2 linked regions of the Homo sapiens genome follow. The protein of the gene in region 2 interacts with the protein of the main gene of each other region in a pairwise test. Each region holds a gene or a part of one and is shown on either strand. Other genes may lie near its edges.

Region 1 (3,810 bases), on a different chromosome or scaffold from region 2:
CCTGCCTCAGCCTCACGAGTAGCTGGGATTACAGGCATGTGCCACCACACCCGGCTAATTGTTTTGTATTTTTTTTTAGTAGAGACGGGGTTTCATCGTGTTAGCCAGGATGGTCTTGATCTCCTGACCTCATGATCCGCCCACCTCGGCCTCCCAAAGTGCTGGAATTACAGTCATAAGCCACCGTGCCTGGCCCATTTTATGCCTTTCTAAATAAGCTTATGAGATACAAGAACATGAATGAGCTTATGAGATACAAGAAAAACCTTTAGAAGGACATGAAATGTAAAAATGGCAAAAATCAGTTATTCAAACTCAGCCATATTTGTATTTACAAAATAAGTCATTTTATAGAATTACCCATTAAGAATGGGAAACAGGAACAAAAAAGGGATTTCAAGGCTTTTTTTTTTCTTTTTTTGAAAAAACCAAAAAAAGCAGAAGCAAAATGGAAGTTGCTGTGGTGGCTGGTGCTCTCTCCTGGGCTCAAGGTCTTGGAGACCTCCCTGCCATAGTTGATAAAGCGTGGAACGCTGGAGACCTGAGCTGGGTGCTGGCAGGATTTGAATGGTGGACTCCAGGGATCTTTTGGCCGTGAAGATCTGTTTCCAATTGCATCTCATAAGCTCATTCATGTTCTTGTATCTCACAAGCTTATTTAGAAGGGCATTTCGTGAGATACAAGAACCCCAAACCAGAAATCAAGGAAGTTTTTCTCTTCAGTGCTCTGTGCATGTTAAGCCAGTACAGGATTTCATCCAAAATCCCACAAAACGATTCTGTTAAAATGGGGCACAGGCAAATACTTGAGTGGTAAGGGCCCCTCCAACAGTTGAATGGACATTACTGCTGCACCTTACACCCACCCTGCAGCATCAGAGGGGATACAGTGTTTTCAAAGGAACGGTGTCAGCCACTGCAGGTGAGAGTGTAAATTCCACCCCTGCTCCTTTAGGGCAACCTGTGAGCAGCTATTACAAAGCAATTGGTGAGACGCAGCATGGAAGTCTGGTGTTTATGGCTGAGTTGATCCACTGGGCTTCGAAGCTGGAAGTAACTGGGACCCTGGGGAAGGTTAAGTCCAAGGCCCTCCCAGAGTGAGGGCTGGAAAGAACTGAGGAGCCTGGTCCCTTGTCCTGGTTTCTGTCTAATTGAAGGTGTTATAATGGGGCTTGTGTTTCCTACTTATGTTCCAGTGGACTATGGCCTAGAGACCTGGGAGTGGGGAACTCCAGGATGCATGGCTGGGAACAGTCAACATAGTGAAGAGCTCTGTGGTTGGCAGCTGGGTCAAATCCAGTTTCAGCTACTTTTTTAAAATTTTATTATTATATTATTATTATGCTTTAAGTTTTAGGGTACATGTGCACAACGTGCAGGTTTGTTACATATATATACACGTGCCATGTTGGTGTGCTGCACCCATTAACTCGTTTTGCTACTTTCTATCTGTGTGACCTCGGATAAGTCCCTTAACCTCTTTTGAGAGTGGCAAGTACTGGCAAATCAGTTAATATCTGGCCAGATGCTGCCACAGGATTCTGGACTAGGGGCTTGGGACTCAGGTGAGGGTTTTGATCTTTGTGCTGCTGCTGGTCTACATGACTTTGATCAAGTAATGTGACCTCTTGGGATTTCAGTTTTCCGCTGCCGTATTTCCCATTGAGATAAATGAGACGAACCAGACACAACAGGTGCTTGGCACCTGGGGAAGGGCCCAATAAATGGCTGCTTAACAAGGATGAAATGGACCATGGGGGCACCTTGTTCATCCCTTTGTCCTGGCTAATGATCAGGAGGTCATTTTGGGTTTCTCCTGATAAGGTAAGATGCACATTAACTCTCAGCAGGGTTTTTTTTTAGCATACTCTGTTCTGCCTCCTAGCCTTTGCTTAAACTTAAAGCCAGTTCCTCCTGCTTCATCTTTTTTGAAAGATTGAGTTCAGATGCCTGCTTTTTTCCCCTGAAAGCTTTTTCTGAGCCCTTTAAGTGCCTAGCCACACTCCAGATTAAATTTAGGATTCCTTCTTGCTGCTCTCTGCCCGCCGTGCCCCCAGTGCATGCTTCTGCTGCTGCACTTGTAACTACATTAGAATTCTCAGTTGATTAGTCTGTTTCCCCATGGGCAGAGAGCAGGTGTAATTATCTCCTGCTGCTGGCATGGCTGACCGAGGAGGTCCCTTTGGTATGGGTGTGCAGTAGAGGGAGGTGGGGGCAAAGGGCAAATCCTGGGCCCCTCCCCATTCCCCTCATTTGCATCCTAGTCCCCACCTCAGTGCCTGGCATAGAGTTGACATTTGATTAATGCCTTCCCCAATGGCTGATTAATGCTAACTGAGACCCTGGTAAATGCTGCAGGCTGTGCATACATTGTAGCTTTTTGTCTTCCCAGCTGCCCCTTGTGGGCATTTAACCTCCATTTTACAGATGAGGGAACCGAGCCACAGATTTAGAGCAGCTTGGCAGAAGGCTGAGCCCGGCTGGAAGCACAGACAGCCCTGGCTGAACACCAGCCTCTCACTCCTCCTTCTTTGGATCCTGGGAGGGTCTCTCTAGTGCTACTCTGTAACCTTGAGAGCTACAGAGTAACAACTCCAGGCACCTCCAGGGACTTGGAGGGAAAGGAGGAGATAAGAAACAGAACAAATAATGGTAATTTTAACAATAGCTTAATCTAAGGAGTGCTGACTTTGTATCATTGTTTTAAGGGCCTGAGATACATTATCTTGTTTAAGCCTTACAAAAACATTTAGATGGTGGATACTGTTACCTTCTTTTATGGGACTGGAAATGAGCCCAGAGGATCTAAGTGACTTCTTGCAGCCTAGCTGGCAAGGGGGTCCCTGGTGGTTCAGCTCCAGGGCCTGGGGAGCGCCTTCACTCTAAGTCCTATTTTGGGGGCAGGCAATGTGTTTCTGGGGATTTGGGAGGCAGAATGAGGGAATGGTACAGAGTGAGGGCTCAGGGAGGGACTAAGGGATTTTGAGCAGAGGAGTGACATGATTTGATTCATGTTCTAAAAGGATCCTTCTGGCTCTGCATCTGAGAATTGACCCTAGCAGGTCAGGGAAGAAGTGGGGAGAGCAGGATTAGAATAGTTCAAGTATGAGATCCTAGGAGGAGCCGGTGAAAGGGTGAGATGCGTTGGAAGTGGTCGTGAGAGAGTCCACGCAAGGATTCCTCCAAGGTTTTGGGCCCAAGCACCTCTCTGACACTGACCACCCACAAGCATAAACAGCAATCAAGGACACCTCCTAGGTGCTGGCCGTCACCCCAGGTGCTTTGCTGGGGCATTTCTGAACACTCCCATTTTAAAAAGGCTAAAACTGAGGCACAGAGAGGTCAAGCAGTCTACCCAGAGCTACACAGTCAGCAGGAACCTTCTCTAGGGTTTGAACGTGAAGCTGCCAAGACCTGACATTTCCTGCCTTTCATCCTCATTTCTATGCAGAGGAACCATTTGCCAAAGTCTCCATGGATGATTCTGAAGGTTTAGTTTGTTTTTCGTTTATTTCATTTTTTTTTTTTTTTTGTTCTTAATTTTGCTCAGGAATAAAGAGATGGTTAGAAATCTCTAGACAGGATAGAGAAGGATGTTGGAGATTAGGGGTGAGAGGTGGGAGCCAGGCTGGGCTGCTTTGGCTATTCAAATATTCTTTAGGATAAGAGTGGGTGGGGAGAGAGGGGACTCACTGCCAGGTCAGGGTGATTTGGTTATTCAAAGCCCACGTAACGGTTGGGTCCTTGAGGTCAGGGGCTCTTCTCACACTTCAGTTTCCATTTAAACCTTTGTGTCCTGCCTTAGCTCTC
Region 2 (4,372 bases):
CTACTGGCGATTGGCTGAATTTTTTTTTTTTTTGAGACGGGATCTCACTCTGTCACCCAGGCTGGAGTGCAGTGGCGGATCTCGGCTCCCTGCAACCTCCGTCTCTCAGGTTCAAGCGATTCTTCTGCCTCAGCCTCCTGAGTAGCTGGGACTACAGGCACGTGCCACCAACGCTCGGCTAATTTTTGTATTTGTTCTTTTTTAGTAAAGACGGGGTTTCGCCATGTTGGCCAGATTGGTCCCGAACTCCTGACCTCAGGGGATCCACCCGCCTCGGCCTCCCAAAGTGCTGGGATTACAGGCGTGAGCCACTGCGCCCGGCCTTGGCTGAGTTTTTATTAGATCTGAGCCGTTCAATTTCAATAGTTTAGGATCCAACCTCACTCTCAGGCAAAGAATAGAGGAAATGATACCAACGTATTTATCTGTCAATAAACACTTGGTGATTTGAATATGGTTAAGGGATTCCTGTAGTTTGCCCCCCTTAAAACTGAACTTTGTCCAAACCTGTTCTAAATATGTGTGTGCGTGTGCATGCATCTGGGTGTTGGGGAGGAGCGGTCGTAAAGTTCCTTTTAAATTTCACCTATGGGGGACTACTTCCCACCTCATCCTATGAAGTCAACATTAGCCTAAATACCAAAGCCAGATTAAGACACTACAAGAAAACTACGAAACAATATCTCTCACGAACACAGATGCAGAACTTCTAGACAAAACGTTTCCAAATTGAAGCGAAGACCATATTAAAAGGACAAAAGCACCTCAGTGGTTGCTTGGGGACTGGGGGAGGGGCTGGATTACTATCTTGGCTGTGGTGTCGAAAACCTATCAAATTGTTCACTTTAAATATGTGCAGTTTATTGTATCCCAACCATTCCTCAACAAAGCTGTTTTTCAGAAACATTTGTCCATGTAGTTTTGCCTTTGAATGGTTGGGTCAATGAAGAGAAAAACGAGTGAAAACAGGGAATCATGACACTTTGTTTTTTTACGTGTAAATATTCGCAAAACGCCCAAACTGGTAACTTTGGGAACACGGGTTCACGCAGAAGAAGGGCTGCTGTCTGGGGAGGACTGAAACTCGGGTTCCCGAAGTCGGGCTGCTCTGGGGCCACGGAGAGAAGGGGAGAGAACGTCGAGGAAGAGGCAGAGCTCAAGTGGACGGAGGATGGAACACAGAGCGCGGCCGGGACAAAGGGGCAGGCCAGACAGCCGTGACAGAGAAACTAGGCGGTCCGCTCCTGGGACGCGGTCTCGGGGGCGGGTTCGCCCCTGAGGCCCGGTGACCCTTCGCCCGCAACCAGGGCTAGCGCTTGTGTGCGCCCACGGAAGCACCCGAGCGACCGGAGAAAGAAAAAGTGGTCAAGGGGACCTCCTTCCAGCTCTACGCGCCTCTCATTCAGAGAGGTGAGGTCAGGAAAGGGGAAGGACGAAGCCCCAGAGCAACAGAAGTCAGGCGGTGCCAGGAACACTGAGAGCGGAGCCAGGGGAAGGCGGCCGAGCGCGGCCCCCTCTCCTCCCGGGCCGGGGCGGGCCCGAGGCCTCGATCCGCCTTCCCCGCGCCGTCCTGGTCACGGCCCCGCGGGGCAGCCATGCCTGGCCGTCTGCTGCGGGGCCTGTGGCAGCGATGGCGCCGTTACAAGTACCGCTTCGTTCCCTGGATCGCACTGAACCTAAGCCACAACCCGAGGTGAGAGGGCGGGACGGCAGAACGAGGGGCACCTGCCTTCGGTTCCCAGACGCCACCACGGCGGCGGGACGCAAAGCGGAGAGCCTGAGGCTGACTGCCGGCCTGAGATGGGCGGGCCCGGGTGGGCAGGGACTGAGGTGGGCGGGCCGGGTGGGCGGGGACTGAGGCCTCGGAGGGGTTTAAGGAACGCGGGCCAGAGGCGGGCGGGGCCGAGGTTGGTGGAGTCCGAGGCCCGCTGGAAGCCTGAAGTGGGCGGTGGCTTCAGGTGGGCGGGGCCTATGGCCTCTTTCCCAGTGTCCGCTGCGCTGCCGGGCCCGCGAGGCCGAGCTCGCCAGCCGGATGTGTCGCCTGTTCTTCCCTGTTGCGTTCGGCACTGACTGGGGAGCTTGTATCTGGGCAAAAATGGAAACTTTTTAAAAAGACTGCCCTTACCGCGTGAGAGTGCGTGGCTTTTTCTCCACCAGGGGTTAATTAGGTGCTTGAACTTCCTCAGAAAAGCCAAGCCAGGGTTTATTTTCATAGTTCATACAAGTACTTCACGTGGTTAAAGAAGCCCATCCCGGCTGTGAGAATAGCGTGCAGTAGCTCGCGCGTTAAGAACGGGCAGAACGCCACTCAAAAGCACGTCGGGATGGTGGGTTTCGGATTGGGGTGAGTCCCGCCGGCGTTATTAAGGGCGCACCAGTGATCAGCTCAACACCGTGCTCACCAAAGAGGCCGACCGGGCCTCCCTGAAGTCAGTGTCCGACAAATAGGGAAACAAAGCGGTTTCCGGAAGGTTGCATGCTAGGGAAACAGGAGATCAGTTGTATCATGACTCGGAACCGTGAGGCGGGAATTACAACCTTTTTGTTCAAGTAAAAATAATGCAGTTAGTACAAAAAGATAATGATTATGGAAATAAGAGGTGCAGTCATTGAAGACGTTAGTCGTCCTGGAGGGAGTGTCACAAAGTATACGATGTTGAATTTGTCTTTGAAACTACAAGGCCATTTTTAAAAAGCCATTGAATGTGAGGTCATTCATTCTCATTGTGATGACATTCAGCTTGGCTGTTGGGTGTAGTACGGGAAAGAGCTGAACTTCGTTTCTGCCTCTGGCTCTCCCACTTACTGGCTTTGGGACCTTGAACAAGTTCCCTAACAATTTTGCTTTCCTTGTCTGCAAAAATGGAATAATGTAAGGACCCCACAGCATGTGGTATAGAATGGGCCTTTCATAAGTACTGACTACTTGGGTGGGAAGTGTTGGGAGTTAGCTAACTAGAACTCCCTCAAACAATTCTTTTCTGAACTTAGTTTCCAGCCCTCCACACACATGAGAATAAGCTTATAGTTCCTTAAGGCCAGGAACCCAGAAGTTATGCAGGTAAGTTTGGCTTTTATCAGTTGAAGGGTAGTGAATAGAAACTTTTCCCATTTTCAGGACCCTCCGATATGTTCCAGAGGAATCCAAAGACAAAGTTATCTCAGATGAAGATGTCCTAGGAACATTACTGAAAGTTTTCCAGGCTCTATTCTTAAATGATTTCAATAAACAATCAGAAATCTTGTCTATGCTTCCAGAATCTGTTAAATCAAAATATCAAGACCTACTGGCAGTTGAACATCAAGGGGTGAAACTGCTTGAAAACAGACATCAACAGCAAAGTACCTTTAAACCAGAAGAAATTCTTTACAAGACTTTGGGTTTCAGTGTTGCCCAAGCAACTAGCTCATTGATTTCTGCTGGAAAAGGTGTCTTCGTTACTAAAGGATTGGTACCAAAAGGCGCAGTCGTATCTATGTATCCTGGTAACAGCACGATTAATATTATACTTTGCCAAGCTTCTTACGTATTGATAAACATAAGTTCAGTAACATACCCAGCCTTGCAATCCTTAGAGTAAGGGATTAAATTGGAAACTCGAGTTTCCATAGATTTTTGCAATTCTAATTCGGAAATTAACTGTTTGTAAATTGTTTTGTGTTAGAAAGTATCCTGGAGTATTTGTTGGGATAAATGCACTTTTTCTTTCAAGGAAAGCTTTCCTGTCAACGTTTAAATTTAGAACATAGTATGACCCACTTTGACAAATTACTTAAAAAGCACTAGAGAAACATGTCAGTTTGGTTTAATTGATAGCTAAGGATAAAAATGGTATGGATAGGCTCACGCCGGTAATCCCAGCACTTTGGGAGGCCGAGGCGGGCAGATCGCGAGGGGTTTGAGACCAGTCTGGCCAACATAGTGAAACCCTGTCTCTACTGAAAATACAAGAAATTAGCCAGGTGTGGTGGTGTGCACCTGTAATCCCAGCTATTCAGGAGGTTGAGGCAGGAGAATGGCGTGAACCCGGGAGGCGGAGGTTGCAGTGAGCCGAGATTGTGCCATTGCGCTCCAGCCTGGGTGACAGTGCTAGGCTCCATCTCAAAAAAAAGAAAAAAAAAAAGCGTACGGATCAAAACATAAAAGACAACATTTAAACCCATAAGTCACCGAATGAAGACCTTCCTGCCCTTTCTACACTTGGAAAGTAAGGCAATTTCTTGGCACAAGATCATTAACTAGAATGCTAAATAGACTACGTTATGTGTTAAACTAACATTATATTATTTGGTATAGTGGAAAGTGTGTGTGTGAATATTTGAGTCAGATAGACCCAGGTTTTTAAAAATTCATTCTCCTGTTTTCTAATTT

What was found.
Region 1: the proteins of SETD9 (region 2) and PLCG2 interact in a two-hybrid assay, tested with the Homo sapiens proteins (one large-scale study listed by BioGRID and IntAct).

Annotation. Positions count from the first base shown.
Region 1 is NC_000016.10:81,781,981-81,785,790, forward strand, and holds part of PLCG2 (1-phosphatidylinositol 4,5-bisphosphate phosphodiesterase gamma-2), read left to right. Parts: intron 1-3,810. UniProt on the Homo sapiens protein: The production of the second messenger molecules diacylglycerol (DAG) and inositol 1,4,5-trisphosphate (IP3) is mediated by activated phosphatidylinositol-specific phospholipase C enzymes. It is a crucial enzyme in transmembrane signaling.
Region 2 is NC_000005.10:56,908,051-56,912,422, forward strand, and holds the start of SETD9 (SET domain-containing protein 9), read left to right. Parts: upstream 1-1,545; 5' UTR 1,546-1,595; coding exon 1,596-1,693; intron 1,694-2,006; exon of another isoform or gene 2,007-2,324; coding exon of another isoform or gene 2,325-2,344; intron 2,345-2,375; exon of another isoform or gene 2,376-2,870; coding exon of another isoform or gene 2,871-2,872; intron 2,873-3,118; coding exon 3,119-3,486; exon of another isoform or gene 3,487-4,174; coding exon of another isoform or gene 4,175-4,208; intron 4,209-4,372.